Linked DNA regions of Homo sapiens. The protein of the gene in region 1 purifies or fractionates together with the protein of each later gene. This does not show direct contact. Each region holds a gene or a part of one and is shown in the gene's direction. Other genes may lie near its edges.

The links.
Region 2: the proteins of LIPG (region 1) and TRMT1 purify together in Homo sapiens (affinity purification with mass spectrometry; 2 studies listed by BioGRID and IntAct, with this or other methods). This does not show direct contact.
Region 3: the proteins of LIPG (region 1) and PLS1 purify together in Homo sapiens (affinity purification with mass spectrometry; 2 studies listed by BioGRID and IntAct, with this or other methods). This does not show direct contact.
Region 4: the proteins of LIPG (region 1) and TMED10 purify together in Homo sapiens (affinity purification with mass spectrometry; 2 studies listed by BioGRID and IntAct, with this or other methods). This does not show direct contact.

The regions. Positions count from the first base shown.
Region 1 is NC_000018.10:49,557,763-49,565,534, forward strand, and holds the start of LIPG (endothelial lipase isoform 1 precursor), read left to right. Parts: upstream 1-4,294; 5' UTR 4,295-4,546; coding exon 4,547-4,643; intron 4,644-7,554; coding exon 7,555-7,736; intron 7,737-7,772. UniProt on the Homo sapiens protein: Exerts both phospholipase and triglyceride lipase activities. More active as a phospholipase than a triglyceride lipase.
Region 2 is NC_000019.10:13,106,704-13,114,238, reverse strand, and holds part of TRMT1 (tRNA (guanine(26)-N(2))-dimethyltransferase), read left to right. Parts: intron 1-1,227; coding exon 1,228-1,343; intron 1,344-1,421; coding exon 1,422-1,534; intron 1,535-3,932; coding exon 3,933-4,081; intron 4,082-4,237; coding exon 4,238-4,324; intron 4,325-4,400; coding exon 4,401-4,470; intron 4,471-4,554; coding exon 4,555-4,689; intron 4,690-4,772; coding exon 4,773-4,858; intron 4,859-6,379; coding exon 6,380-6,488; intron 6,489-6,588; coding exon 6,589-6,665; intron 6,666-7,535. UniProt on the Homo sapiens protein: Dimethylates a single guanine residue at position 26 of most nuclear- and mitochondrial-encoded tRNAs using S-adenosyl-L-methionine as donor of the methyl groups. tRNA guanine(26)-dimethylation is required for redox homeostasis and ensure proper cellular proliferation and oxidative stress survival.
Region 3 is NC_000003.12:142,599,199-142,606,733, forward strand, and holds part of PLS1 (plastin-1), read left to right. Parts: intron 1-1,329; exon of another isoform or gene 1,330-1,548; intron 1,549-7,535. UniProt on the Homo sapiens protein: Actin-bundling protein. In the inner ear, it is required for stereocilia formation. Mediates liquid packing of actin filaments that is necessary for stereocilia to grow to their proper dimensions.
Region 4 is NC_000014.9:75,145,439-75,152,973, reverse strand, and holds part of TMED10 (transmembrane emp24 domain-containing protein 10 precursor), read left to right. Parts: intron 1-830; coding exon 831-942; intron 943-5,236; coding exon 5,237-5,310; intron 5,311-7,535. UniProt on the Homo sapiens protein: Cargo receptor involved in protein vesicular trafficking and quality control in the endoplasmic reticulum (ER) and Golgi.

The DNA.
Region 1 (7,772 bases):
AAGTGAGATGGTTGTACTAAATGATCTCTAAGGTTTATTTTAGTTTTAACATTGTAGATCTATGCTGTCCAATATGGTAGCAACCAGCTACATGTGGCTATTGAGCCCTTGAATATGGCTAGTCCGAACTGACATGTGCTGTAAGTGTAAAATACACACTGGATTTCAAAACAAAAATGTAAAATATCTCAATAATTTTTTTATATTGGCAACATGTTGAAATAATATTTTGGACATGTTGGGTTAAGTAAAATATATTATTAATATTAATTTCTTTTTAAAAATGTTTTTACTTATTTATTTGGGTAGAGATGAGGTCTCCTTATGTTGCCCTGGCTGGTCTCAAATGCCTAGCCTCAAGCCATCCTTCCACTTTGGCCTCCCAAAGTGCCAGGATTACAGGCGTGAGCCACCACACCCAGCCACTTAATTTTAATTTCATGTGTTTCTTTTTACCTTTATAATAGGACCACTAGGAAACATAAAATTATACATGTGCCGCTATGGACTGAATTGGGACCCCCTCAAATTCCTATGTTGAAGCCCTAACTCCCTATGATGTATTTGGAGATGGGGCCTGTGGGAGATCATTTGGTTTAGATGAGGTTATGAGGTGAGGCACCATGATGGGATTAGAGTTGTTATTGGAAGAGACATCAGCGTGTTCTTTCTCTCTCTCTCTCTCTCTCTCTCTCTCTCTCCTCTCTCTCTCTCTGCCATGTGAGGACACAGTGAGAAGGCAGCCATCTATAAGCCAGAAAGAGGGCCCTCACCAGAAACCGACTATGCTGGTACCCTGATCTTGGACTTCTAGTCTCCAGAACTATGAGAAAATAAATTTCTGTTTAAAGCCACTAAGTCTATGGTATACTGTTCTGGCAGCCCAAACTGACCAAGACATGCGGTTTGTATTATATATTTCTGTTGGACAGCATTGGTCCAGATATCTGGGAACTCCTACATACCAGCCAGCCTTCTGGCACTTGTAACTTTCTGTATTGTGTCTGTGAGAGCACAGGCATGGTCTCCAGGCCAGTGTTTCCTCCCTAGCAGCTGCTCAATAAGCTTCTGGCAATTAAGTCATTTTCTTGGTTGTAAGAATATAAACAGTCTCTGGATAATGTATGTAAAAGAGGACCTCATTAAGAGAATATTGGGTAACAACTGGAATCTGCAGGGCAGAAGAACCAGGCTTGGAGGATATACTCAGGCAGACAGCAATGTCCCAAATCCCACTGCAGACTAGTCTGGGGGTGACTCCACTGCTGCCCCAGAGAACCAGAGCTGGCTGTCCATTGGCAGAGTGGCGTGGGTATGTGCTTCCAGCCTCATTAGTTTCCAGTTCAGAGTTCAGTTGACTGAGTTTGAATCGGGGACTCTAGCTGCAAGAGAGGCTGGGGCTGGGAAGGTGAGCAATTGCTTTTGAGCTTTTTTTTAGTGGAGAGTTGGGTCTTATCATAAGCAGAAGATTTATTCCTTTAACATTGGAAGGGTCTTTAGATGCTGGGCTGCCACATAAGGATGGAACCCTTTCCTTGTGTTGTCTGAGACCTTGAAATTTTGACTGCAACACAGCAGAAGTTCCATCAAGACTCCTCAGCTGGAACTCCTCCAGGCGAGAGGCTCTTCAGATCTCCTTGTTCTTGGGAAGGATGAAGCAGAACAGTTGACATCATACATTCTAATGCTACAATTATAATTTCATGATGTCCTTTGAAAATTCTCGCATGTTATTTTAATGTGGAGACACAGGAGGGCACTCTAACCAACTAGCAATAAAACCTAAATGGTTTCATAGCCTTGGCAGTTAAAAAATAGATGTTGATTTGTTGAACCTGTAAAACACAGGTTTTTCATTTACTTATTTATTTATTTGCAAAGGAGTTTCACTCTTGTTGCCCAGGCTGGAGTGCAATGGTGCGATCTTGGCTCACCACAACCTCCGCCTCCCAGGCTCACGCGATTCTCCTGCCTCAGCCTCCCGAGTAGCTGGGATCATAGGGATGCGCCACCACGCCCAGCTAATTTTTTGTGTATTTTTAGTAGAGATGGAGTTTCTCCATGTTGGTCAGGCTGGTCTCGAACTTCTGACCTCAGGTGATCCGCCCGCCTCGGCCTCCCAAAGTGTTGGGATTACAGGTGTGAGCCACTGCGCCCGGCCGGGTTTTTCTTTTTTTCTAGGCAGGATAACTAACTTTGCAGGACTACCTTCCAACAATACCCTGCAAAATACCCTAGCTTCCGTGGGGGTATCTCACCTATAACAAAGGCTCTCAAGACACACTCTCCACATTATCCAGTTAATGTTCTAGGGACCATGGCTATGAGCAACTCAGAACAGGGAAGGAGTTTTTTTCTTCTGATGTCCAGGCTGGAGTGTAGTGGTGTGATCATGGTACATTGCAGCCCTGAACTCCTGGGCTCAAGGACTCCTTCCGCCTCAGCCTCCCAAGTATTAATAGCTTGCACTACAGGTGTACCACCTTGCCTGGCTAATTTAAAAATTTTTTTTGGTAGAGATGAGTGTCTATGTTGCCAGGGTTAGGGAAGAGGACTTTTGACTACAGCTTACCCCCTGCCTCAGCCACTAGACCAGGTTGCCAAGAGCTCACATTTAAAGGTCAATTGGCCAAATTGAACCTAGAGCAGAGAAGAGAGACCTGGTTGTCTTGAGACTTTCTTCAAATCTGCAGCCTGTCCCCATGACTCAGTTTTCCCATCTGTAAAATGGAGATAACATTAGACCTATGTCTGTATAGTTTCCTCATGAAGAGAGAGACAGAGTGGGAACAACATATCCGGGGGTGATATTTACCATCGCACACAGACCATTGAGTTCTATACTAAAAAACTAAAGCCCGCCTGAGTCTTGTTAATGAATGATAGCACACGGGAGGGACAAAGCGTGCTCTGCTGGCAGCTGGAGTAACAAAAGTAATGAGGCGAGGTCGGAACAGGATCTGCTGGCTCCGGCTCGGTTTCCTCGCACAGGTCTCTCCAGCTGGATCCTCGACGCTAGGGAGGAAGGGGCGCGGGACTGCTGTGGGGGTTTTCCCTCCCCAGGCAGGGGCAGGACCTGTTCCGGGCGACTGCAGGGTTAAGGGTATCGTCTTAAAGAGCCGGATCCTCCCGGCTGGAGCGAGGCTGGATGGCGGGACGCAGCCTCTCAGCCTCTCGTACCCGCCCTGCGTCCGCAGTGGTTGTTGGCGCAGCCGCCCCGTCGGTGTTCCGGGCTCAGTCCCCGCTCCCCAGCGCCAGACGCAGACTCCGGGCCAAGTTCTCCCTCCGCTCGCTGCTTTCTGCCGCAGGACCCGGATCAATAAAGGGAAGGAGAGCCGGGAGGAAATGATGGAGAACAGAGAGAAAGGAGATGCTTGATTTCACTCGCCAAGGAGTGAGTGCTCATCGGCAGACACTGGGCTCTGGCCACGCGTCTTAGACTCCAAATCTCGGCTCACTGGTCCCTTTGAGGAGGTCGCCTGGTGTTCCCGTAGCCCTCCACCCCACCGTAGGAGAGCGCCTGCCACGAGCTCCGCGCCTCGCTAAGTGCTTTGCTACGTGAACTCTTAGTTTTCCCAACATCCCTAAGCCGCCGATACATTATCACCCACGTATTGCGGACGAGAGAACCGCCTCGGAGAAGCTGGCTGGCTCGCTTGGAGTTTTGCAGCTAGTGGCGGAGCGAGCATTCCGAGCAGGTACTGTGCGATCCTCCAGCGCCGGCCGCAGCTCACAGCCCCTTAGCTCCGCCGGGTTATTGTGCGGCCGCGCCTTCTGCACCTGTTGCGGCCCTCGCTAGGCGGGAAGGGAGGGAGAAGAGGAGGACAAAGGGGATGACCAGGTGGCTCTCCCCCGACGGACTCCCGGCCCAGGGAGCGGATAGACCACTCCCAGAGAGAGTGTGGCTTTGAGCCTTGGAGAGGATGCTCTCCTTCTCCAGGGATCGCCTCCCCAGCGGACGCAGAGTTTCAGGGAAATGTCCGCCTCCGCCACTTGGGATGGCAGTGGGGAGAGGAGGATCTGGGTGTCCGGAGGAGGGCAGTGGGAGAAAGCTGGAGCTGCTGGAGTCGCAGCTGCCTGCGGAGCGGGCCCGGGAGGAAGCGGGGCCGAGCGTGCGGCGTCCACGCGGTGAGTGTGCAGCGCTTTCATTCAAACTTTCTCCAGTCTCGGTTCCGGCGTCAGCAAGGTGTGACCAATCAGAGCCCAGAGACGGGAATAAATTATGCAAATCACCATCTGGCGATGGGTCAGATGACTCCCATACTTTTAAAAACTACCTCTATAGGAGCGTGACAGCAGCGAGTCCTTGCCTCCCGGCGGCTCAGGACGAGGGCAGATCTCGTTCTGGGGCAAGCCGTTGACACTCGCTCCCTGCCACCGCCCGGGCTCCGTGCCGCCAAGTTTTCATTTTCCACCTTCTCTGCCTCCAGTCCCCCAGCCCCTGGCCGAGAGAAGGGTCTTACCGGCCGGGATTGCTGGAAACACCAAGAGGTGGTTTTTGTTTTTTAAAACTTCTGTTTCTTGGGAGGGGGTGTGGCGGGGCAGGATGAGCAACTCCGTTCCTCTGCTCTGTTTCTGGAGCCTCTGCTATTGCTTTGCTGCGGGGAGCCCCGTACCTTTTGGTCCAGAGGGACGGCTGGAAGGTAACGTGAATTTGTTTTTATTCCCCCCAGCCACTTCTCTGTGCTGGGTCCCCTCTGTCTTGCTGATTCTTCAAACCCTCCTTGTTCCTATGAAATTCTTCCTTTCCCACTGCGCTGCCCATTCTCTCCTCCAATCCACCTTGGAGTCCACCTGTCTCTCTGCTGGTCTGATGGGGGCATTCCCGGCAAGTCATGCAAAAGGCAAAGGCTGGCAGGGTGCGCTGGCTCTTGCCAGCCCTCCCACCCCCACCTCCTTCCCTTATACGGCTCCCTAAGCCAGTGCTGGTGCTGTCCAGCCAGCCGAGCGGCCTGGCAGCAGCTCTGAAACCTTGTCCTCATGCCTGAACCTGGAGGTTTGAGAGGCAAGAAGGCTGTCAGAGCTGTGTCTCCTGGAGCTGCCTTTTAATCTTGGTGTAGGTGTCTTGAAAGTTCAGGTGGCAGGGTAGCTGGCTTTGGTTTGATTCGTGCTTGCAGGGAGCGTCTGGTGGGTCGCTTGTGCTTAGAAGCTGCCGGGCCTATTCCCCCAGGTTGCCAGCCTTTTCCTCTTCAACACTCTTGTGCTCCCCCGACTCTTCCTCTTCCCACTCCTCCTCCCTTTCCTCCTCCTGGCTTTTAGCTTCTCTTCCTCTTGGGTTCTGTATGGCAGCCTTTGCCAGTGGAGGCAGCTTGCCCTGGGGGAGCCAGAGTCAGTCAGCTCTGGGGGAGTCAGAATCAGAGTGAGAACTAAGTCAGCTGATAAGCAGTGGAGGGCTGGGGAGCCTCTAAACTGAACCCCATCATCTCATCTTCTAGTCTGCTGAGGTTGTGCCAAATGGTCTGTGTGGGCTTGTGTATGTGTGGGAGGGTTACTGTGAATGAATGGAAAGCCTTGCTTTACTCAACATGTTTCCAACTCTGGTGCTAACTAGAAGCATTGCCTAGGGCAGGTCTCATCTCTGGCTCCTCACCTGTAAAATGCTAAAGTTCCTTCTAACTTCTGTGTTCTGGGCCTCTGAGTATGTGTGAGTCATTTCCTTCATTGCAAAAAGTATTTACTGCATACCTACTTAGTGTCAGACACTATTCTGGGAGCAGGGGAGAGAGCAGTGGACAAAATAGATGGCAATCTGTGCCCTTGTGACACTTACATTTCAGTGGTGGGAAGACAGACAGTGCACTGATTAAAGTATCAGTGGTGCTCAGTATTATGGAGAAAAATCAAGCAGAGGAGGAAGGTGGGGCATGTTGGTGGGGGAAGGTGGTGCGATTTTATGATGTGGTCAGGGAAGGCCTTTCTGGAGAAGTTGACCATTGAGCAAAGAGCTGAAGGGGGTGAGAGAAGGAGCCATGAGGACATCTGGGTGAGGAACAATCAGAAAGTCCCAGAGGCTGAAGTGACCCAGGCCAAAAGTAGTAGGAATGTACCTAGAGAACTTTGGGGTCAGAGCAGGTCAGACTCTAAGAGGAAGAGTCTTTGTCCATATGTGGGTTTATCCGCAGATCTGTCTCAGGAATCCAGGAGACTTCTTTTCTCCTAGGTTTCCCCATCTGGCCTCTGCATGAGTGGCTATCTGGGTAGAAGGTGGGGAGTTGTCGAACTCATTATGTCCGTGGTTCAAATTTCTGCTGGTTGGGGCTTTTGTTCATTACTTTCATGACGGTTAACCTGACTTCCGCTCATGTGCATTCAGCAGCATTTTCTGGAACCTTATCCCTCTTACATCTGCTGCATTCTTCCCCCTCTCTCCCTCCTTTCCCCTCCGCCCTCTCCACCACTATATCTCTTTCCTTTTGGTATCTTCTTCCTTTTGCTTCTTAACTCTGAGATAAATTAACTCCAAGATGGTCATTTGGCATCTTTCCCTGCTGGGTGATAGGAGAGTTTGATACTCTCACTTTCTAGCCAGTTATCCAGTGATGCATCCCAGGATGGCTGAAAGAGTGCTGGGTGGGGTCCATTTATGACTTTCTGAAACGGTGTCATGATGACAGCACCTACTTAGTGTTAAGCCACAGTGGCCATCAGTGACATGAGCTGCACTTTGGGAGCAGGGCCGTCTCCTAGGTGGCACTGTGCATGAGCAGTGAAGCTGGAAGGGGGGATTTTTGTTGCTTTTAGGAGTTTCTCCATGGCTTTAGTCATTTACTTAACAAACCAGATGAATGCCTGGCACATGCCATCACTAGAAAGGGCACTGAGGATGCCTGAGTTTCCCTAGATGGGAACACTAGGGGAAGCCTATTTTCCAGCAGGTCAACAGCCTCTTGCCTCCAATTCCAAAATCCACAAACTCTCAAAATTGGAAAATGTGTTTGGTAACTTGTTTGGCAGCAAGACCTGGCCTTACCTGATCTGAACTTATTTGGCAGCAAAAACCTGGCCTGAGATAACAGGAGGCTATTGGTTATCTTTATATTTGCCCTCAAATGTGAGTGGTTATGTATTCTCTGCAGAAATATTAGGATGTTTGATCCAGGGGGAATAGCCCAGGCCCCACTGGCAGCATTATATAATATATGGTGTATGCTCCATGATGCCTTTCTAAAATCTGAAAACTTCTAAATTCTGAAACTCACCTGGTCCCAAGCATTTCAGAAAAAGAACTGAGAACCTGTACTCTAAAAGTAGGAAGGAAGTAGAACTCCTTTTGATAGGAAAGAAGAGGGAAATGCAAGAGAGAGATCTATTTATTTCAGAGTGACAGTAATTAATACTAGTGACTAATTAATACTCTTTAAGTATAAATGAGATGTCCTTTTTTATAAAATGTTCACAGTTTTTCTGGGAGGTGAAAAGGGAACATTCAGCAGATGTAAAAACCGAAACCCAGATGGCTTAAGCAAATTGCTCACGATTGAACTAGAATCAGACCCCAGGTCTCTCACTCCGCAAGTCTGCTAGATGCACCCACGCTCTGTTCTGTCTCCCCAGATAAGCTCCACAAACCCAAAGCTACACAGACTGAGGTCAAACCATCTGTGAGGTTTAACCTCCGCACCTCCAAGGACCCAGAGCATGAAGGATGCTACCTCTCCGTCGGCCACAGCCAGCCCTTAGAAGACTGCAGTTTCAACATGACAGCTAAAACCTTTTTCATCATTCACGGATGGACGGTGAGCCCGGGGAGGGAGCTCTGCGGCTTTATATAA
Region 2 (7,535 bases), on another chromosome or scaffold:
AGCCTAGTTTATCAATGGCCCACAACCCAAGAATGTTTTTTACATTTTTAAAGGTTAAAAAAGAAGACTATGCAGTAGGGACCACATATGACTCACAAAGCCTAAAATACCTTCTGACCTTTTACAGAGAAAAAAGTTTTTACTTTTCTGACCTTACTAGAATCCAAATAGTAATCACAGACAATGAAAAGTAATTAGCTGGGCATGGTGACTCATGCCTGTAATCAAGCATTTTGAGAGGCCAAGGCAGGAGGATCGCTTGAGGCCAGGATTTCAAGACCAGCCTAGGCAACACAGTGAAACCCGTCTCTACAAAAATTTTAAAATGAGGTCAGACGCAGTGGCTCACCCCTGTAATCCCAGCACTTTGGAAGGCCGAGGTGGGCGGATCACTTGAGGTCAGGAGCTCGAGACCAGCCTGGCCAACATGGTAAAACCTCGTCTCTACTAAAAATATAAAAATTAGCCAGGCATGGTGGCACGTGCCTGTAATCCCAGCTACTTGGGAAGCTGAGGCAGGAGAATCGCTTGAACCCAGGAGGTGGAAGTTGCAGTGCGCCGAGAACCCACCACTGCACTCCAGCCTGGGTGACACAGCGAGACTCTGTCTCCAAAGAAAGGAAAAAAAAAATGTGTTAATACATCTATAAACTGCTTGAAATGGTGTCAGGCAGATACGTCTTATATCAGTATTGTTGTTGTTTTAGATGTGTGGACTGAGTTCCACATGGTGCTTTTCCTAAGTAGGAAAATTGTGCAGTTTAATAAATGACCAAGGCCAGTGCAGTGGCTCACACTTGTAATCTCAGCACTTTGGGAGGCCGAGGTGGATGGATCACTTGAGGTCAGGAGTTTGAGACCAGCCTGGCCAACATGTTGAAACCCCATCTCTACTAAAAATACAAAAATTAGCTGGGCGTGGTGGCACATGTCTGTAGTCCCAGCTACTCTACTCGGGAGGCTGAGGCGCGAGAATTGCTTGAACTGGGGAAGCGGAGGTTGCAGGGAGCCGAGATCACAACACTGCACTCCAGCTGGCTGACAGAGCAAGACTCCGACTCAAAAATAAAATAAATAAATAAATAAATGACTGAGCCAGGACTTGAACTTGGGAATCTGGCCCCGGAGTTCAGACCCAAACCACTGTGCTGTACGAGTTAATATGTGTAGGGGACAGAGAAGGTACCTGGCGTGGGAGGCTGAGGACCTGGCCCTCTTTGCACCCAGGATGCTGATGTACCAGCACCAGAGGGTGTCGGAGAGGTTTGACGTCATCGATCTGGACCCCTATGGCAGCCCAGCCACCTTCCTGGATGCAGCTGTGCAGGCTGTGAGTGAAGGAGGTGAGGTGGGGATGGCACTGGGGTGGGAGCAGGGCTTGGGGTGTTGGAGGGTTCTCACTGCCCAGCCCCTCTCTGCAGGGTTGCTGTGTGTGACCTGCACAGACATGGCGGTGTTGGCGGGGAACAGCGGGGAGACGTGCTACAGCAAGTACGGGGCCATGGCCCTCAAGAGCCGGGCCTGCCACGAGATGGTGAGGGGCCCTCTGCCAGCCAGCCAGGGAGACCGGGGGACAGGTGGTTGTCTGAGTCCCTTCCCAATACACTTTCCCCCTCCTCAGACCTGCTCAGCTTCCTCCAGGCTGATGGCCAGATGCATCCCAGGCTGTTAACGACAGGCGTGTCTTCAACCCACATAGTTCCTAAGAGCATGGCTGATAATCATGGTCATTTGGGGACAGTGGCTTTGGCCAGGACAGGAGTGCATGGCCACATTATTTTAGTTTTCTGTATTAAAACAACTTTTCAAAAAAAAATTTTTTTTTTAAAGGTCGTTTTTCCAGGACTGGGTTTAAATCCTAGCTTTGCTGGTAGCTCTGGGCAAGTGACTTCACCTTTCTGGTCCTCGGGTTTTTTTGCATCTGTAAAATGGGCACAATGATGGTCTGAAGGCCGGGCGCAGTGGCTCACACCTGTAATCCCAGCACTTTGGGAGGCCTAGGCAGGTGGATCACCTGAGGTCAGGACTTTGAGACCAGCTGGCCAACATGGTAAAACCCCATCTCTACTAAAAATACAAAAATTAGCCAGGCATGGTGGCAGATACCTGTAATCCCGGCTACTCAGGAGGCTGAGGCAGGAGAATCACTTGAACCCAGGAGGCGAGGTTGCAGTGAGCCAAGATCACTCCGCTGCACGCCAGCCTGGGAGGGAGACCCCATCTCAAAAAGAAAAAAAATAGGCCGGGCGTGGTAGCTCACGCCTGTAATCCCAGCACTTTGGGAAGTCGAGGTGGGCGGATCATGAGGTCAGGAGATTGAGACCATCCTGGCTAACATGGTGAAATCTGATCTCCACTAAACATACAAAAACTTAGCCAGGCATGGTAGCGGGCACCTGTAGTCCCAGCTGTTCGGGAGGCGGAGGCAGGAGAATGGCGTGAACCCAGGAGGTGGAGCTTGCAGTGAGCTGAGACTGTGCCACTGCACTCCAGCCTGGGCGACAGAGCAAGACTCTGTCTCAAAAAAAAGAAAAAAAAATAGGCCGGGCGCGGTGGCTCACGCCTGTAATCCCAGCACTCTGGGAGGCCGAGGTGGGCGGTGTTCAAGAGGTCAGGTGTTCAAGAGCACCCTGGCCAACATGGTGAAACCCCGTCTCTACTAAAAATACAAAAAAAAAAAAAAAAAAATTAGCTGGGCGTGGTGGTGGGTGCTTGTAATCCCAGCTATTCGGGAGGCTGAGGCAGGAGAATCACTTGAACCCGGGAGGTGGAGGTTGCGGTGAGCCGAGATGGCACCATTGCACTCCAGCCTGGGCAACAAGAGCAAAACTCTGTCTCAAAAAAAAAAAAAAAAAATGGTCTGACCCTATTGAGTGTCTGATCAGGATTCAAGAAGGCTGAGTGGCGAAGTGCAGCGGCTCATGCCTGTAATCCTAGCACTTTCGGAGGCCAAGGTGGGAGGATCACTTGAGGTCAGGAACCTGGGCAACATAGCGAGGACCCCATCTCTACAAAAAAACCCTAAAAATTACCTAGGTGTGGTGGTGGATGCCTGTGGTCCCAGCTACTCTGGAGGCTGAGGCAGGAGGATCACTTGAGCCTAGGAGTTCAAAGTTATTGTGAGCTTTGATAGTGCCACTGCACTCCAGCGTGGTCCACAGAGGGCTCTTGCCCTTGTTCCTAAAGGGTCCTGTCATGAAGTCAGCCCGGGAAATGCTGTCTCCTTTCCCATATCAGAGTCTCACACTAGCAGGAAAGCCCTAGCCGTTTTGCTTTTTTTTCTTTTTTGAGATGGAGTTTCACTCTTGTTGCCCAGGCTGGAGTGCAGTGGTGAGATCTCAGCTAACTGCAACCTTCGCCTCCCAGGTTCAAGTGATTCTCCTGCCTCGGCCTCCCTAGTAGCTGGGATTACAGGCGCCCGCCACCACACCCAGCTAATTTTTTGTATTTTTAGTAGAGACGGGGATTTCATCATGTTAGCCAGGCTGGTCTCAAACTCCTGACCAGCCTCCCAAAGTGCTGGGATTACAGGCATGAGCCACCACGCCCGGCCCAGGCCCCAGCAGTTCTACAGCACCTAGTATCCCCACTTCCTGCCCACAGAGCCCTTGGGGGCTGGAACGTGGGTCCTCAGTACATGCCACATGGCACACCGATAATGCTGGTCAGAATAGGTTGGATCTATGCTTTCCTCACTCGTTTAGTGCCCCCAGCAGTGCCACAGACAGGGACTGTTGTGATTTTGCAGATGAAGAAACTGAGGCACAGAGAGGGGATACTCACTTGTTGAGGGTCCCACAGCCAGGACTTTCAGGGGTGGGCTTGGATCCCAGGGAGCTGGCCCTGAGCCTGTACTTGTGAGTACCACATAGGGCTCCTGGTGGGGTGGGTGGATAGTGGAGGGGAGGCTGACACCCACCCCCCACCCCCAGGCCCTGAGAATCGTCCTGCACAGCCTGGACCTCCGCGCCAACTGCTACCAGCGCTTCGTGGTGCCGCTGCTCAGCATCAGCGCTGACTTCTACGTGCGTGTTTTTGTCCGTGTCTTCACCGGCCAGGCCAAGGTCAAGGCCTCAGCCAGGTCAGCCCGGGGGCAGAGAGCGGTGGTGGATTGAGAGAGGAGACAGGACCTTGCCCTGGGGGATCTGGGGCTTCTTAAGGGACAGAGCCAGTCTAAGGGAGGAGTTGGGGTGTCGTGGTCACGCTGGGAACTCGTGGCCACTGGTACCCCCCACAGCAAGCAGGCGCTGGTGTTCCAGTGTGTGGGCTGCGGGGCCTTCCACCTTCAGCGTCTCGGCAAAGCGTCAGGAGTCCCCAGCGGCCGGTGAGCAGGGAGGAAGGAGAAGAAGGGGAGTCCCAGGGTTTTCCTCCCTCCCCACCAACCACCCCTCTCTGTTTAGGGCCAAGTTCTCTGCAGCCTGTGGTCCCCCTGTGACCCCCGAGTGTGAACACTGTGGGCAACGACACCAGGTAGGGCTAGGCCAGGGGAGGCAAAGGAGCAAGAGGGTCTTGAAGGTCATAGTCCCTGCTCACCTGTCCCCGGTGCGCCCCCAGCTTGGTGGCCCCATGTGGGCAGAGCCCATCCATGACCTGGATTTTGTGGGCCGTGTCCTGGAGGCTGTGAGCGCTAACCCCGGCCGCTTCCACACCTCGGAGCGGATCCGAGGGGTCCTGAGCGTCATCACTGAGGTGAGAGCCGGGCTGTGACGGGGAAGGGGGCTCCACCTGTGCCCGTCCATCTCCACTCATGCCCATCCTGTCCCCCATCGCAGGAGCTCCCGGACGTGCCTCTGTACTACACCCTGGACCAGCTGAGCAGCACCATCCACTGCAACACACCAAGCCTCCTGCAGTTGCGGTAAGAGCCCCTGGGGTCGGGAGGAGCCTGTCCCAGACCACAGGGTGGCCTGGGGCAAGTCCAGGGATTCTCATGCATAGAACTTGCGAGGGGGTGGGGAGAACCCGGTGCACTGTCTCATTCCTGTAATCCCAGTACCTTGGGAGGCTGAGGCAGGAAGATCACTTGAGGCCAACCTGGGCAACGTAGTAAGACCCTATCTCTAACAAATAAATAAATAAATATATATGTACACACACATACATATACACACACATACATACGTATGTATACACACACACACACACACACACACCCATTAGCCTGGCATGGTGATACATGCCTATAGTCCTAACTACTCAGGAGGCTGAGGTGGGAGGATCATTTGGGCCAGGAGTTTGATGCTAAAGTGAGCTATGATCATGCCACTCCAGCCTGGGTGACAAAATGAGACCCTGTCTCTTTAAAAAAAAAAAAAAAAAAAAAAAATTAGGCCAGGCTTATTGGCTCATGCCTATATTCCCAGCACTTTGGGAGGCTGAGGTGGGCAGATCACTTGAGGTCAGGAGTTCAAGACCAGCGTGGTCAAAATGGTTAAACCCTGTCTCTACTAAAAATACAAAAATTAGCTGGGTGTGGTGGCACATGCCTGTAGTCCCAGCTACTTGGGAGGCTGAGGCACGAGAATCACTGGAACCTGGGAGGAGGAGGAGGCGGTGGTGAGCCAAGATTGCGCCACTGCACATCAACCTGGGCAACAGAGCGAGACTCCATTTAAAATATAATAATAATAATTAGAAAAAGAAAAAGGCCAGGTGTGGTGGCTCATGCCTGTAATCCCAGCACTTTGGGAGGCTGAGGCGGGCGAATCACTTGAGGCCAGGAGTTCGAGACCAGCCCGGTCAACGTGGCGAAACCCCATCTCTACTAAAAATACCAAAATATTAGCCAGGCGTCATGGCACATCCCTGTAATCTCAGCTACTCAGGAGGCTGAGACAGGAGAATTGGTTGAACCTGAGAGGCAGAGGCTGCAGTGAGCCAAGATTGCATCATTGCACACCAGCCTGAGCGACAGAGTGAGACTCCACCTCAAAAAAATAATAAATAAGAAGGCCAGGCACGGTGGCTCACTCCTGTAATCCCAGCACTTTGGGAGGCTGAGGCGGGCGGATCACAAGGTTAAGAGATCGAGACCATCCTGGCCAACATGGTGAAACCCTGTCTCTACTAAAAATACAAAAATTAGCTGGGCGTGGTGGCACATGCCTATAGTCCCAGCTATTCGGGAGGCTGAGGCAGGAGAATCGCTTAAACCCAGGAGGCGGAGGCTGTGGTGAGCCAAGATTGCGCCATTGCACTCCAGCCTGAGCGACAGAGCGAGACTCCATCTCAAAAAAAAAAAAAAAAAAAAAAAGAAAAGAAAAGAAATGAACTCTGTAGCCATGAGCCCTTGCCGAAGGTAGTCTTACCTACGCTGGTCAGCTTGGGCTTTGGGGTCAAGGAGTCCGGCATCTCCCTCATAATCCCTGCTGTTCCCCAGGTCGGCCCTCCTCCACGCTGACTTCCGGGTCTCACTCTCCCACGCCTGTAAGAACGCTGTGAAGACGGATGCCCCTGCCTCTGCCCTCTGGGACATCATGCGTTGCTGGGTGAGGGCAGGGCTGACCTCATGCAGGTGGGAGGGCAGGTGGTGGTCACCTGGAGGTCCCTTGGGCCTAGTATTCCCTAACCTCTGACCTCTGCCCCCAGGAGAAGGAATGTCCGGTGAAACGGGAGCGACTATCAGAGACTAGCCCAGCGTTCCGCATTCTCAGTGTGGAGCCCAGGTAGGGGCAAGCACATGCAGGAGCGGCCAGGGCTGCCCACAGACATGGAAGCACATGTGTGTGCAGACAACACAGATGCTGCCCCACACAGACTCGTGCCCATTCTTCAAGTGAGATTCAAAATCTGCTGACTGGGGCTGGGTAGGTGGCTCACGCCTGTAATCCCAGCACTTTGGGAGGCTGAGGCAGGTGGATCACCTGAGGTCAGGAGTTCAAGACCAGCCTGGCCAACATGGTGGAACCCCATCTCTACTAAAAATACAAAAATTAGCTGGGCATGGTGTGGTGGTGGGTGCCTGTAATCCCAGCTACTCAGGAGGCTGAGACAGGAGAATCGCTTGAACCTGGGAGGCAGAGGTTGCGGTGAGTCTAGATCGCGCCATTGCACTCCAGCCTGGGCGACAGAGCGAGACTCCATCTCAAAAAGAATAAAAAAATAGCTGGGTGCGGTGGCTCATGCCTGTAGTCCCAGCACTTTGGGAGGCCGAGGCAGGCGGATCACGAGATCAGGAGATTGAGACCATCCTGGCTAACACAGTGAAACCCTGTCTCTACTAAAAATACAAAAAAAAAAAAAAAAAAATTAGCCGGGCGTGGTGGCAGGTGCCTGTAGTCCCAGCTACTCGGGAGGCTGAGACAGGAGAATGGCGTGAACCCCGGGGGGCAGAGCTTGCAGTGAGCCGAGATAGCGCCACTGCACTCCAGCCTGGGTGACAGAGTAAGACTCCGTCTCAAATAAATAAATAAATAAATAAATAAAAATAAAAATAACTAAATCTGCTGACTGGGCTGGGCGTAGTGGCTCACACCTGTAATCCCAGCACTTTGGGAGGCCAAGACAGGCAGATCACCTGAGGTCAGGAGTTCAAG
Region 3 (7,535 bases), on another chromosome or scaffold:
AATAAATAAATAAATAAAAAGTGCATTTTGCCATGGGGAGGGTGGGCATTTAGGATCTTAGAGCTATATGGTAGCGCTTTATCCAGACTATCCCCTAATTGTATAGAGGAGGGACTCAGATATTCTTTTTTTTTTTTTTTTTTTTTTTTGAGATGGAGTCTCGCTCTGTCGCCCAGGCTGGAGTGCAGTGGCGCAATCTCGGCTCACTGCAAGCTCCGCTTCCCAGGTTCACGCCATTCTCCTGCCTCAGCCTCCCGAGTAGCTGGGACTACAGGCGCCCGCCACCGCGCCCGGCTAATTTTTTGTATTTTTAGTAGAGACGGGGTTTCACCTTGTTAGCCAGGATGGTCTCGATCTCCTGACCTCATGATCCACCCGCCTCGGCCTCCCAAAGTGCTGGGATTACAGGCGTGAGCCACCGCGCCCGGCCAGATATTCTTAACTAAGCTAGTTAGTGGGATAGCCAGAAGCTCTGTTCAAATTTCCTCATTACTAGACCCAAGCTCTTTTCATTAACTATTACTTTTTGAGGTTGTTGGCCCCACGATTATTTTTATTTATTTATTTATTTTTTGAGACAGGGTCCCACTCTGTCACCCAGGCTGGAGTGCAGTGGCACGATCACTGCTCACTGCAGCCTTGACCTCCCCGGGCTCAAGTGATCCTTCCCACCTCAGCCTCCCAAGTAGCTGTGGCCACAGGCACGTGCCACCATGCGTGGCTAATTTTGTATTTTTTTGTGTTTAGAGATGGGGTCTCACTATTTTTCCCAGGCTGGTCTTGAATTCTTTGGCCTGCCTCAGCCTCCCAATGTGTTAGGATTACAGGCCTGAGCCACCATGCTCAGCCTCCCAAGATTAATTTGAGTTGGTAGCAAGACACTCCAGTTCAAGATGTTCTGTGGACTGAAAGCCCTCAGAAACCAATCTAAGGGGGAAATTTGGTGGTCGATGAGAGAATGTGTGTGTCATCGGAAGAGGTGAAACACAAGGCTGCTGGCCAGTTCAAGGTTGAGTGTACACAGTGAGGAGGGAGTGAGGCTGGGGTCCTAGGAATCTTCACACTGGGGAGTTGAAGTCTGGAAAGGTCATGGTAGCTTAGCTTGTCAGAGGCAGACACAAATGGGTTGGCCCAAAGTCCTTGGGACTGAGAGTCTATTTCCTAGATATATTGTACACTACCAGGAGGTGGTGAGCAATGGCTTTGGAGAGGGTAGGCCAGGTGCAGTGAGGGTAGGCCAGGAGGGTGGCACCAAAGGGTGGTGTTTATGACCCAAGAACATGGGGGTGAGGTAAGGCTGAGAGAGAGACAATTGTGATCAGATTCTACCTGGAAAAACAAGACAGAAAGCAGTGCTGCTGAATCCAAACTTCCAGTTCAAGAGGTGGTTTGGAATATTTGTTTACTTGGAACAGATGTTGCATTTTGCAAATCATAGCCATTTTGCAAATCAAAACACAGCCTTTCCATTGAGCTGCACACAGCGATGAGGGAGCTGTTGGATGCCACATCCTTGCCATTGACTTGCACACTGTGGTTGACCACCATCTTCATATTTCCACAGGCAACGATGGTCCATTAAAAATGTCAAGGAGAGAGAGAGCAGTTGAGAGGAGAGACAGAACAAATGAGCTTGAGAAATGGCTAGCAGTGGGGAAGGGAAGGGTTGGCCTGGTTTCATATATATATATATATATATATATATATATATATATATATTTTTTTTTTTTTTTTTTTTTTTTTGAGACGGAGTCTCGCTCTGTGGCCCAGGCGGGAGTGCAGTGGCGCAATCTCGGCTCACTGCAAGCTCCGCCTCCCGGGTTCACGCCATTCTCCTGCCTCAGCCTCCCGAGTAGCTGGGACTACAGGCACCCGCCACCACGCCCGGCTAATTTTTTTTTTATTTTTAGTAGAGACGGGGTTTCACTGTGTTAGCCAGGATGGTCTCGATCTCCTGACCTCGTGATCCGCCCGCCTTGGCCTCCCAAAGTGCTGGGATTACAAGCATGAGCCACCGCGCCCGGCCTATATTTTTTATATATATATGTTTTTCATGATGACGTTAGTGAAAATTGATTAGGCAGATGCAAAATCAGGTAGTATGTTGAAGTTAATGTCTCATACACTTAAATGTCCAAATATTAAATCCTAGAATTTACCATGGCCCTTTGTAAAATGACAAATATCTTTCTTAAAATAATAATAGTAATATTAGTAACTAGTATTACAGAATATCTTCCATGAACCAGGCACTATACTAAATACAAGTAATATATCATTTCATCTTTATAAACCATCCTGTGAGATAGGTGCAACAATTACTCATTTATTTTTAATTTTTATTTTTTAAAAACAGGGTTTCAGTCTGTCACCCAATCTGGAGTGGAATGGCACAGTCATAACTCACTGTAACCTTGAACTCCTGGGCTCAAGCAGTCCTCCCGCCTCAGCCTCCCAGGTGTGGACCAACGTGCCCGGCTTATTAAAAAAAATTTTTTTATAGTGATAAGGTCTTGCTATGTTGTCTAGGCTGATCTCAAACTTTTAGCCTCAAGCAATCCTCCCACCTCAGCTTCCCGAAGCCCTGAGATTACAGGCATGAACCACTGCACCTGACCTACCCTCATTTTCTAGATGAGAAAATTGAGGCTTAGAGAGATAGATAAAAGCATTTATCTGAGGTCATATAGTTTACAAGTGGCTGAGCTGAGATTTGACCCCAGGCCTATCTGACTTTATACACTGAGCGCTCAAATAACTTAATCAAATATCTTAACAAAAATGCAAAGCTCTTTCTGAGGTAACTCTAACAGATGCTTAGAATAGCCACAGGTTTCAGCTGGTGGAACCACCAACATTCTTTGAGCCACATTTAAAAAAACCAAAACAACAGTGGTAAATCGTTCCGGTTTTTTTTTTTTTTCATTCCACTTAGTCTTTATCTCCTTTTCTCTTGAAGCATTCCTAGAGAAAGGGACAGCAGCTTTTTCTCTGGGTACACCATTAAAGCCACTTCTGATCTGCTCCCACCCTCTTTTGGGGTGGAGCTGTGATTGGGGAGTGAGTTGGTGGTCATCCAGGGCGTGTCTGTGGAGTTGGCAATGGGAAACTGGGAAGCTCACCTTGTGTAGGAGCCTAAGAACTCTGGAGTGACCAGGTATAAGGATTTCTTTCCCTGGGGTGTCAGGATCCACTGCTGGAAGCTCCTGGAATATCTATGGATCATGACTCTAATCTTAGGCCTTTGAACTATGGCCATAAACCCCCAGGAAGAATCCAGGTGTGAACACATTCTCCCCCAATTTTTAAGATTGGGGAGTTGTGAAGTCCCTGTGGACTAATTGGAGGTGGGTGTGGATACCTCAGGAAAGGCCCCAGGTCAAAGACAAATAATTTAAAGGCCCCCCCCACCCCATAGGCCCCAGCTTTGACCTGTGAGAAAATGTGCTCCTCTCCCTCCTCTTGATGAACCTAATTACATAGAGAACTTACTCTCCTGGGAGTCTCAAAATGGAACTCAGCTGAGAGCGTGCTTCCCTCCCTTGCTGCCTGAGCTCTCTTTCCATTTCCTGGTTCTGCTTTACCTTCCCCTGAGTGGTTCTGTGTTCCCAGGATATGAAAGGCAGGGCCGCAGCTTCTGGCTTCACCGGGCTAATTTTTGTATTTTTAGTAGAGTCGGGGTTTCACCATGTTGGCCAGGCTGGTCGCCAACTCCTGACCTCAAGTGACTCGCCCGCCTCAGCCTCCCAAAGTGTTGAGGCTGAGGCCACCTCTGGCCCTCATTCTCTCAACATTCAAAAGCTTGTCACTTCATCCAGTTCCGAATTAACATTTTACTCTGGCTGATGATGAACGTCGGGGAGAAAGAGACATTTGTGCTGCATACGGGTTTATTGGTTATAAAATGGTTATACAATTTTGATTGCTGGAAACTTTGCTGACATGTAAGGTCACATGAGATGTGAGGCTGTTCAACTTTGATCATCTGATTTCTTTTTAGCACTGTGTCTGAAAGTGCCTATGTGCCGTTTTTGGTGAGACATATGTAGCATGGCTTCTGTAAAGGCACGTTGCTTTTTATTATAGTAATATTGTGGGCACAGAAAGGGTGAGGAGTTAGATGATTGGGAGAGTTTTTTCTTACTTAAAACACTTGTTTCATCAGAAAATATTTCCTAGCAGAGTTAGACATAGCTTTGTTCATAAAGTCCAGTGGTGAAGGGACTTCAGACTTTACGATAAACTAAATTTTATGATTGACTTTTGTGAGCAATTCACAGCTATAAAACTACGAGACTGGCTGGGCATGGTGGCTCACGCCTATAATCCCAGCACTTTGGGAGGCTGAGGCAGGTGGATCGCTTGAGCTCAAGAGTTCAACACCAGCCTGGGCAACATGGCAAAACATCGTCTCTACAAAAAAATTATCTGGGCATGGTGGCGCGTGCCTGTAGTCCCAGTTACTTAGGCTGAGGTGGGAGGATCATTTTGAGCCCAGGAGATTGAGGCTGCAGTGACCTGAGATTGTGCCACTGCACTTTAGCCTGGGTGACAAAGTGAAACCCTGCCTCAAAAAAAAAAAAAAATACCTACAAGAACATCTGGGTGATAACTCACTGCACACAGACATGCCTCCTTCAAAAGATCCAAGCTGACCACAAAAAAAAAGGAGAAACTGTCTTTTCTTGATAGTAAATTGGATGGAGACATTAGTAAGGTAGAAGGTGTCTGAGGGGCTTCTTCATGATAAAAAGCAAAAGGTTTTGGGGTGTCACTGACCCAAAATATTAGCAGAAATCAGATTTACTCTATTATTGAGGAACACAATACATTAAATTGTTTATAGATCCAGTTTCAAGAAAGAAGATGTTTATATTAAAAAAATGACAAAAGCTCCTTCAATTTTTTTGAGAACTAAGAAATAAGAGATTTTAGCAGTACTGCCAAAATAGAATTTGGATTTGAATTTAAGACACTGGTAAATGTGTGTGGAAGGATCGGTCTTGTTAATTACACCTTGGACCAAGGGCTGCTTGGAATGAATAAAAGAGGGGGAAAGGTTTAGACAAGTAGAATCTCTAGGTTGATATCAAGTTAGTATTTATAATCTTTGTAAATAAACCAAAACCTCTCAAAGACTCCTGCTGTCTCTTCCTGGAGAGCACTCTGAATTCTTTCCTGGCGGTCTCCCTTTTCCTTCCCCTCTCCCCAGGTTTAAGATCATTGGGACATCCTTTTGGTCAAGGAAATGTTTCTAAGAGTGACCTAGTTATTGGAATTTTAAGTGTTAATCAGGTCAGTGAGGTGCCATCTGTGAAACACAGCTCACCAAAACCCAATGTTTTTCATCAGAAGTTGTCATGGAAGTGAGTTGATTTTGGAAAAACAACAATAATAGCAATTTGCTTGATCCCTTTCTTATCCTCAAATAGCCAAATTAAATTCAAGATTATTGGCCAGGTGCAGTGGCTCACGCCTGTAATCCCAGCACTTTGGGAGGCCGAGGCAGGCGGATCACGAGGTCAGGATATTGAGACCATCCTGGCTAACATGGTGAAACCCCGTCTCTACTAAAAAATACAAATAATTAGCCAGGCGTGGTGGTGGGTGCCTGTAGTCCCAGCTACTCAGGAGACTGAGGCAGGAGAATGGCGTGAACCCGGGAGGCAGAGCTTGCAGTGAGCTGAGATCACGGCACTGCATCTCCAGCCTGGGCAGCAGAGCAAGACTCCGTCTCAAAAAAAAAAAAAAATTCAAGATTATTATCAGTGGAAAAAGGAAATCTGAAAATCTCTGAATGTTTAGTGGTCAATTAAAATGAGTCTTAGGGCAATTTAAAGTTTAGATACCTGAAACCAGTTGGCCTATGATCAGAACCATGGATGAGAAGTCAAAGTCTGTGATTCTGTTTCTGACCCCATGAGAAGGAAGGCCTTCTCTTCAGCTGTAGGTTTGATAATTAAACAAGATAGTGGATGTGAAAGTAACTAGTCAACTACAAGATAGAGGAAAGGCATTTATTGATGTTTAAAAAAGCTTTCTGATTTTACTTCCTTTCACTGATAAGTGGCCAAGACTTAGAGAATGACTTGCCTGCTGGAGGTTGCCTGATTTGAAACTGCCAGAAATTAAACTCATAACTGTGTCTTATAATTTCAACATTTGAAAAAATGTCAGGGTTAATTTTTTTGAGACAGAGTCTTGCTCCGTTGCTCAGGCTGGAGTGAGGGGCACAATCTTGGCTCACTGCAACCTTTCGCCTCCCGGGTTCAAGTGATTCTCCTGCTTCATCCTCCCCAGTAGCTGGGGTTACAGGCATGTGCCACCATGCCCAGCTAATTTTTGTATTTCTAGTAGAGACATGGTTTCTCCATGTTGTCCAGGCTGATCTCGAACTCCTGACCTCATGGGACTTCAGTCTAGCTCCAAATCTAGTGCTCTTGCAGTCAATTCATATTTTCTTCTGTTACTGACCATATGAAATAATTCCTCTATGAAATTTATGTGCAATTTTTATAAAAGTCTAAATGTATTTTATGGCTAACCCTCAACTATGGAGCATATTAACATTAAAATGAGTTCTTGAAATAAGAGTTGATTAACATGGGAAAATATCCATCTCTTTCATCTTGAACAAAGTAGTTTTGTTTTAAAACTTATACTTCCTGCTAATGTACATCTGGAATGTGTAGGATAAAAGATTAAACTTTCTAAATATTTTACAAAGTTATATTCTCCCTATGTGATATATATTGTTCTGTGGGAGACTAAGCCTTAATTGAAGTATTTCTGCAAGGTTACTATAAGCATTTCTCATACCACTAGGACAATAAATAATGGGAGAACCCAAAACATTGTAATTTTCTAGTAATTCAGAGGAAATAACTGAATCCTGAAACATTGTACAAAAGGGTACACAATGATACCCATTTTTGCATGTTAATGTATTATTAAATATCAGTGGGAATAGTCTGCATGCTATTTCACATCTCAGGCACACTTAAGGAAGACCTTGTGATGTGCATGTTGCTCATTTAATCTAGAAAGGATACCAAGATTCATTTAGAACTTCTTTATGCACAGTTTTTTTTTGAGTATGTTATGTCCTGAGGCATTAAGGGTATTACTAAAGCAAGCAGCGGGACTTCTCAGAGAAATTAAAGGTTTCATATCAACCACACGTTGTCAAAATCTTCACTTTGAATAGGATTAAATGATGTTTCATCAGTATTCTTGGCACACATGACATTGTTTTTAAAATAACAGTTTTATTACTCTTGGCTGTGACAGTTTCTCAGACTTTCCTTAATATCATACAATTCTCCAATTTAAACTGTATAGTCAGTTTTACAATATTTTAATTACCCTGTATTCATTAGCACTTTCCTCATTTTCTACTACCTCCTCCCCAGCTGCCCCTACCCTAGGCAATGCCAAATCTACTTTCTGTCTATATATTTGCCTATTCTTGAAATTTCAAATAAATGGAATCGTATAATATGTGGCCTTTTGCGTCTGGCTTATTTCACTTAGCA
Region 4 (7,535 bases), on another chromosome or scaffold:
ATTTTGGTATTTTTAGTAGAGACGAGGTTTCTCCATGTTGGTTGGCCAGGATGGTCTTGATCTCTTGACCTCGTGATCCATCCGCCTCGGCCTCCCAAAGTGCTGGGATTACAGGCGTGAGCCACCGCGCCCAGCCAGGTCTTGAACTCTTGAGCTCAAGTGATCCTCCTGCCTTGGCGTTCCAAAGTTTGGGATTACAGGCGTGAGCCACCATGCCTGGCCAGAAACTTCTTTTTTGTTTCCTGTGTTTTGTTCCCACTCTACCTGGCCGTTGACATAATTAACATGAAATTTGCAGGAATAGATCTCCTGGATTGTCTTCTCTATGTATGCTTTTCTTCCTGCTGTCCTTGTATTGTGTGTCCTAATTTTATTCTCCACCCACACCCCTTCCCCATCAAATTTGTTTTATAGAATAAATGTGTTTTTATATATCTTTGTCCCTCTTGTATAATCTTTTGATAATTGTCTACTTTCATTTTTGTGACATGTTCCTCTATGCGGAATGATACTAGTGAGTTTTTGCCAATAAATCCAATGTATGTAACTTGGAGCATTAGCTAGATTAACTTTTTGGTATGGTAAGACATCCTATAGCAGCAACAGATTTTAGCCCACAGTGTGATTAGGCTATTTGAATGGATGAAATTTGCTGTATTTGGATTTAATCTTCTAATCCAGTTTTTGTCTTTGGGGATGGTTGGAACATAGTCATCATAATGAGAACTATCAATTGTCTTTCATAGATAGTGTCTCTATCTTCCCAGTTTCTGTAAGTTCTCTTCCTGAGTGTTATTTGCTGCCTATTCTTACTACTTTTCTTATTTTAGATCACAGATTCTGCTGGCCATATTCTCTACTCCAAAGAGGATGCAACCAAGGGGAAATTTGCCTTTACCACTGAAGATTATGACATGTTTGAAGTGTGTTTTGAGAGCAAGGGTGAGTAATCAAGAGTGTTTCTCTGGATTAAGAATCTTCTCCAACTCTAATGCTCCTTAATACAGTCAGCACTTAATATCTAGTTTCATTTGTATTCTTTATTTATTCTGATTTGGAGACCTGTTACCTTGTAGTCTTTGGAGCACCTTTTAAAAGGTCGACTACATGGAATAAAAGATTGAATAGGTGGAACAGAGAGAATTTTTAGGGCAGTAAAAATATTCTGTATGATACTGTAATAGTGGATACATGTCATTATATGGTTGTCCGAACATTACATTTGGAATGTACACCAAGAGTGAATCCTAATGTAAACTGTGGACTTTGGTAGATAGTGATGTGTCCATGTAGGTTCATCATTTGTAATGAATGTACCACTCTGGTGGGAAATGGTGATAATGGGGGAGGCTATGCATATGTAAGAGGAAGGGGGATATGGGAAATCTTTGTGCCTTCCTCTCAGTTTTGTTGTGAACCTAAAACTGCTCTAACAAAGTGAAGTCTTAAAAAAAAGGCTGGGCATGGTGGCTCATGCCTGTAATCCCAGCACTTTGGGAGGCCAAGGCAGGCAGATCACTGAAGGTTAGGAGTTTGAGACCAGCCTGGCCAACATGGTGAAACCCTGTCTCTACTAAAAATACAAAATTAGCTGGGCATGGTGGCTCGTGCCTGTAACCCTAGCTGCTCAGGAGGCTGAGGCAGGAGAATCACTTAAACCCAGGAGGTGGAGGTTGCAGTGAGCAAGATTGTGTCACTGCACTCCAGCCTGGGTGACAGAGTGAGACTCCATCTCAAAAAAATAAACAACAACAACAACAAAAAAAACTGGCCGGGCGCAGTGACTCACGCTTGTAATCCCAGCAGTTGGGAGGCCGAGGCGGGCGGATCACCTGAGGCCAGGAGTTTGAGACCAGCCTGGCCAACATGGCGAAACCCCATCTCTACTAAAAATACAAAAATTAGCCAGATGTGGTGGTGGCACATGCCTGTAATCCCAGCTACTCGGGAGGCTGAGGCAGGAGAATTGTTTGAACCCAGGAGGCAGAGATTGCAGTGAGCCAAGATCGTACCACTGCACTGCAGCCTGGGTGACAGAGCGAGACTCTGTCTCAAAACAAACAAAAAGGATTGTCTGTTTGCCAGGCAAATGCAGAGAGAAAAATTATGAAGGGTCCTTTTACAAAGGAGACTCTTTAGGGCTATGATGTCAGCTAAGAGGATAGGCTGACAGTTCTATGCAAGAGACTGTATAGTCTGGACTCGACCATTCTGAGAAATGGTGGTTAGGTGATTTCGTTGTGCAAATATTAAGTGTACTTACACAAACCTAGATGTTATAGCCTACTACCCACCTCGGCTATATGGTATAGCCTACTACTGCTCCTAGGCTACAAAGCTGTAAAGCATGTGACTGTACTGAATACTGTAGGCAGTTAGAACACAATGCTATTTGTGTATCTAAACATAGAAAAGATATAGTAAAAATACAGTATTATAATAATCTTATGGGACCACCTTCATATATGCAGTCTGTCCTCGACTGAACTGTCTTCATGTAGTGCATGACTGTACTGTGCTGTGACAATCAGGGAGGTAGTTGGAAGACCTTGTAAGAAAGAAGATATCCTGATCATTTGGACCAGGTGGGGCTGTGAACTGCTTAAGTTTCACAACTTTTTCAATGAGGAAGTACATCTTCCATGGACAATGTCGTAATCAGGATTACACATTGGATTTGGGAGAACAGAACACTCTGGGTGCCACATTTTGTTTTGTTTTGTTTGAAGACTTGTTGTTTTCATGCTCAGAAGACACATGTGACTTGTCTTACTTTGTTCTCAGTCTTACCCTGTGCAGTCTTATTTATATTTCTCTTGCTTTCGAGTTAATCTTTCCAGTCTATCCAAAAGAAGTCCTTTTTTTGTGTGTGTGTGAAACAAGAGTCTTGCTCTGTCACCCAGGCTGGAGTGCAGTGGTGCGATCTTGGCTCACTGCAACTTTACCGGGTTCAAGTGATTCTCATGCCTCAGCCTCCGGAGTAGCTGGAACTACAGGCACGCACCACTGCGCCTGGCTAATTTGTGTATTTTTAGTAGAGACGGGTTTCATCATGTTGGCCAAGCTGGTCTCGAACTCGAACCTCAAGAGATCCACCTGCCTTGGCCTCCCAAAGTGCTGGGATTACAGGCATGAGCCACCGTGCCCATCCCAAAAGAAGTTCTTTACTGTCTTTCAAGCATGCCATACTCCGATTTTAATATCTGAGCCTTTGCTCATGCTTTGCCGTCTGCCTAGAGTACTTTGCCTAAGTCCTGCCTTTAGGTGTTCCCTTTTTAGTGAAGTCTGTCCACAACTACAATCTTCTCTCCTCTTCCCTTTGCTCCATATTGGAATTGTCTGAACCAGTTCCTTTGGCTTAAACTTTTACAGTGCTTTGCATTTTCACCATAGTTGTTTTGTGTATATGTCTTAGATCCCAATTGAATTATTTGAAGGCAGGGATTGTATCCTGGCTTAGTCCATTTTGTGCTGCTATAACAGAACATCGCAGAGTGGGTATAAACAGTAGAAATTTGTTTGGTTCATGGTTCTGGAGTCTGGAAAGTCCAAGATCAAGGGGCCACATCTGGTGAGGGCCTTTTTGCTGTGTCACAATAACATGGCAGAAGGTATCACATGGCAAGAGAATGCACAGGAGAGCAAGAAGGGGCTGAACTCACTTTTATAACAAACCTACTTCTATGATAATGACATTAAATCTATTGATGAGGGCAGAGCCCCATGACCTAGTCAATTCTTAAAGGTCCTACTTCTCCGCCAGGCACAGTGGCTCATGCCTATAATCCCAGCACTTTGGGAGGCTGAGGCAGGAGGATCGCTTGAGCCCAGGAGTTCCAGATCAGCCTGGACAGTATAGCGAGACCCTGTCTCTACAAAAAATACAAAAATTACCTGGGTGTGGTGGCTCACGCCTGTAGTCCCAGCTACTTGAAAGACTGAAGTGGGAGGATTGCTTGAGCCCAGGAGTTCGAGGCTACAGTGAGCCATGATGGTGCGTGCCACTGCACTCCAGCTTGGAAGACAAGAGTAAGAACCTGTCTCAAAAAATTTTTTTTAATTAAATAAATAAAATTAAAGGTTTTACCTCTCAACACTGTTGCATTGGGGATTAAGTTTCCAACACATGAACTTTGAGAGGGGCACATCGAAGCCGTAGCATATCTCTTTAAAATCTCCAGCACAGTTTTAGTACTTAGTGAGTTTTCAATGAGTAGTTATTGAATTGACTTCAGTTCATTTCAGAAAACTTCCAGTGTCTCTCAGGCATCAGAGGGTACAGTACCATTCAGTGTGGCTTATGGTTTCAGGAACCCCAGTGCTTCAGTGGCACTGTTTCCCACAACTTCTAATTTCATGCAGGCAGTTGTAAATTTTATAACTAGGTGAATTCCAGGGGATTGGGGCTGAACAGTTTTCTGGGGCTCCTTGGGTCTTTTCCTTTCTCCTACTTGATGATTTAAGATTAGAATGCTTCTTTGATCCAGCTGAATCAGATTGACTCTTCTAACATGAACTCTATTATAAGAAGCATCCCTGAGATTTGAACACTTAAAGTTGTTTTTTTTTTTTCCTTGAGCTGTTGTAACTCTTTTAAGGGCTTAGTGGGAATAGCTCTATGACATTGTACTCCTACTGAACTAGGCCATACATTGATCAAAATGTTTGAATTAAAGTGGAATATTAGATAAAACTTATGTTCTTTTCAGTACTCAGATTTATATTAAGTAAATCCAAGCTTAGCACATATCCAATAATCCTAATTCATCATGGCCTTCCCTCAAAATTTGACAGGGCAACCTTTTCAGATGTGGAAATACACATTTTCAGCCGAAGTTGTTGCCTACTATCTCTTGATTTATATGCCACTCAATTTCACACTGTTTTGATTTTTGAGTTTTATTTCCCAATTCAATAAGCCTGTGTGGTTTCCCTTCTGTTCTGTTCCTCTGTAGTACCAGTTGCAGTATCTTGTGTCCTTGCCTGCTCAGAGATGTTTGCCAGCAGCATGTTCTTGTTGCTTTCCGGCACCCCACACAGATAGAGGCTTTGTCTGGAATGTTTGTGATTTTAGCCAGAGCCAGGAATTTTCTGCAACTGAGCAGGGGGAGGAGTTGTGGCTGTTTCCCTCTATTGAGAGGGTAGGGGTTCTGTAGAGGGAGGGCGGGCGGGTGGGTGGGTAATTTCCCAGAATTTTAAGTATTTCACACAATGATTCCTTTGATTTCTTTCTCAGGAACAGGGCGGATACCTGACCAACTCGTGATCCTAGACATGAAGCATGGAGTGGAGGCGAAAAATTACGAAGAGGTATGTCCTGCTCTAACAGCCAGAGGAGGCAGCAGTGTGCTATGCTGTGAGGTTTCTGTGACCTCGGCAGGCCAACAGGCTGTGCTTTGCCCAAAGGGCTGTGGTTTCTTAGCAGTCTTGTGACAGCCAGCCATGATCTTACTGATACAAAAAGTGGTATTAACAGCCTTAGCCGGGCGCGGTGGCTCACTCCTGTAATCCCAGCACTTTGGGAGGCCAAGGCGGGTGGATCGCCTGAGGTCAGGAGTTCGATACCAGCCTGGTCAACATGGTGACACCAAGTTTCTACTAAAAATACAAAAATTAGCCAGGAGTGGTGGCGTGCGCCTGTAATCCCAGCTAGTCTACTCGGGAGGCTGAGGCAGGAGAATTGCTGGAACCTGGGGGGCAGAGGCTGCAGTGAGCCGAGATCGTGCCACTGCACTCCAGCCTGGGCGACAGGGCAAGGCTCCATCTCAAAAAAAAAAAAAAAAAAAAACAGCCTTGAAGAATAATTCTGGCTGTGCTGTCAGCCAAAGACTGAACAAACTGTCCCACAGAATGTTGGTTTGATAAAACACTGAAGCATATGGCATTAGTTCTCTTGAACTGTGTGTGTGTAGAGAGAGATATTTTAAATTTTTTAAAGCTGGAATTCAGTTATTTGTTAATGCCCAAGGTTAAGAAAAGTGATTTGTTTTTAATTCCTAAGACTTTTTCCCCAAGACCAACAGTTGTATATCTATCTATCTATCTATCTATCTATCTATCTATCTGGGGCATGGATTCAGTGCTGTTTAGTCTTGAACAACTGTTTTGTGTTTGGGAAATAACAATAGTCAAAGATAGTTTTTAGTTAAAATAATTTCAAACTTTCAAGGAAGAGGGCAGGATGGAGGAAAAAGCTGCAAGAGACTAGGAATGGTGATAATAGAAATTTGATGCTGATAAGAAGTTATTTATTATAGACTAATAAAAACTGACACTTATTTGGGTGACAGGGAGATGGAGGTGTACACAGAATGAGGAGAAGGACAACAGCCTTTTTCATCTCTGCGAGACTTGGGGGCAGCACAAAAGGGTTCTTCAAATGAAGGGCACCTTTGAAAAACCACAAGAACTATTTAAGACTAGATAATTGATCTTTACAGAAAGATAAGAGTATTTTTACCCAACAAAACAGTACGTAAGGGCATGAAGGAGGAGTGGGGTACAGGAAATAGAATGGGCTTTTGAAGAATGCAAACTAAGTAAATGAAGGAAAATTGGTTTAAGTGATTTAGGAAAATTGTCTAGGAATAGTGGAACAGAAGTTGCTCTCTCTTTGGACAGCACTTTGGAAGGGAAATATCCTAAAATGGAAGAAGATTGGAAATGACTGGTTAATTCTGCAACAGGAAGTAGTACAACAGTTGCAGCTCTTTCCTTGTTCAAATCCTCAATTGAATGAAACTAGGTAGCGTTATTTAGAGGCAGTAAATAGGAGCAAGTGATACAGTTGTGAATGGGAGACAGTTTCCGGTAGAGAATTTTCAATTGTTTGTTTCTGTTTCCAGGCTAGTTTAATTTAAATAAATAAAACAAGAAGACCTCTTTATTTGATGAACTTGAGTAAATTGAAAAATTTTTTTAAACCTTCATGATTCAGAAGAATCTTAATTATATTTAAATAAGATTATGTTAAAGTGCTTTTATAAGATATAAAACACTAGGGAGAATGTTCTCATTATTATAAGGTAGAAGAATAGGTAAAATGATTTCCAGTTTGTGGTTACTGCTTCTGTTCCCGAACTGTGGACCATTCTCAGTTGAATTTGTACTCTGTGGAATTTTACCTATTGTAATCTTTTTCTCCAACATGATGCCTGTCATTAAGGGTATTTATTTATTTATTTATTGAGATGGAGTCTCGCTTGGTTGCCCAGGCTGGAGTGCAGTGGCGGGATCTCTGCTCACTGCAAGCTCCGCCTCCCGGGTTCACGCCATTCTCCTGCCTCAGCCTCCCGAGTAGCTGGGACTACAGGCACCCATCACCACGCCCAGCTAATTTTTTGTATTTTTAGTAGAGACGGGGTTTCACCATGTTAGCCAGGATGGTCTCGATCTCCTGACCTCGTGATCTGCCTGTCTTGGCCTCCCAAAGTGCTGGCGGATTACATGCGTGAGGCACCGCGCCCAGCCCAAGGGTATTTATTAAATAACAACACATCAATGCCCTATTAGACAGTAGACATAGCTAGTTCCCC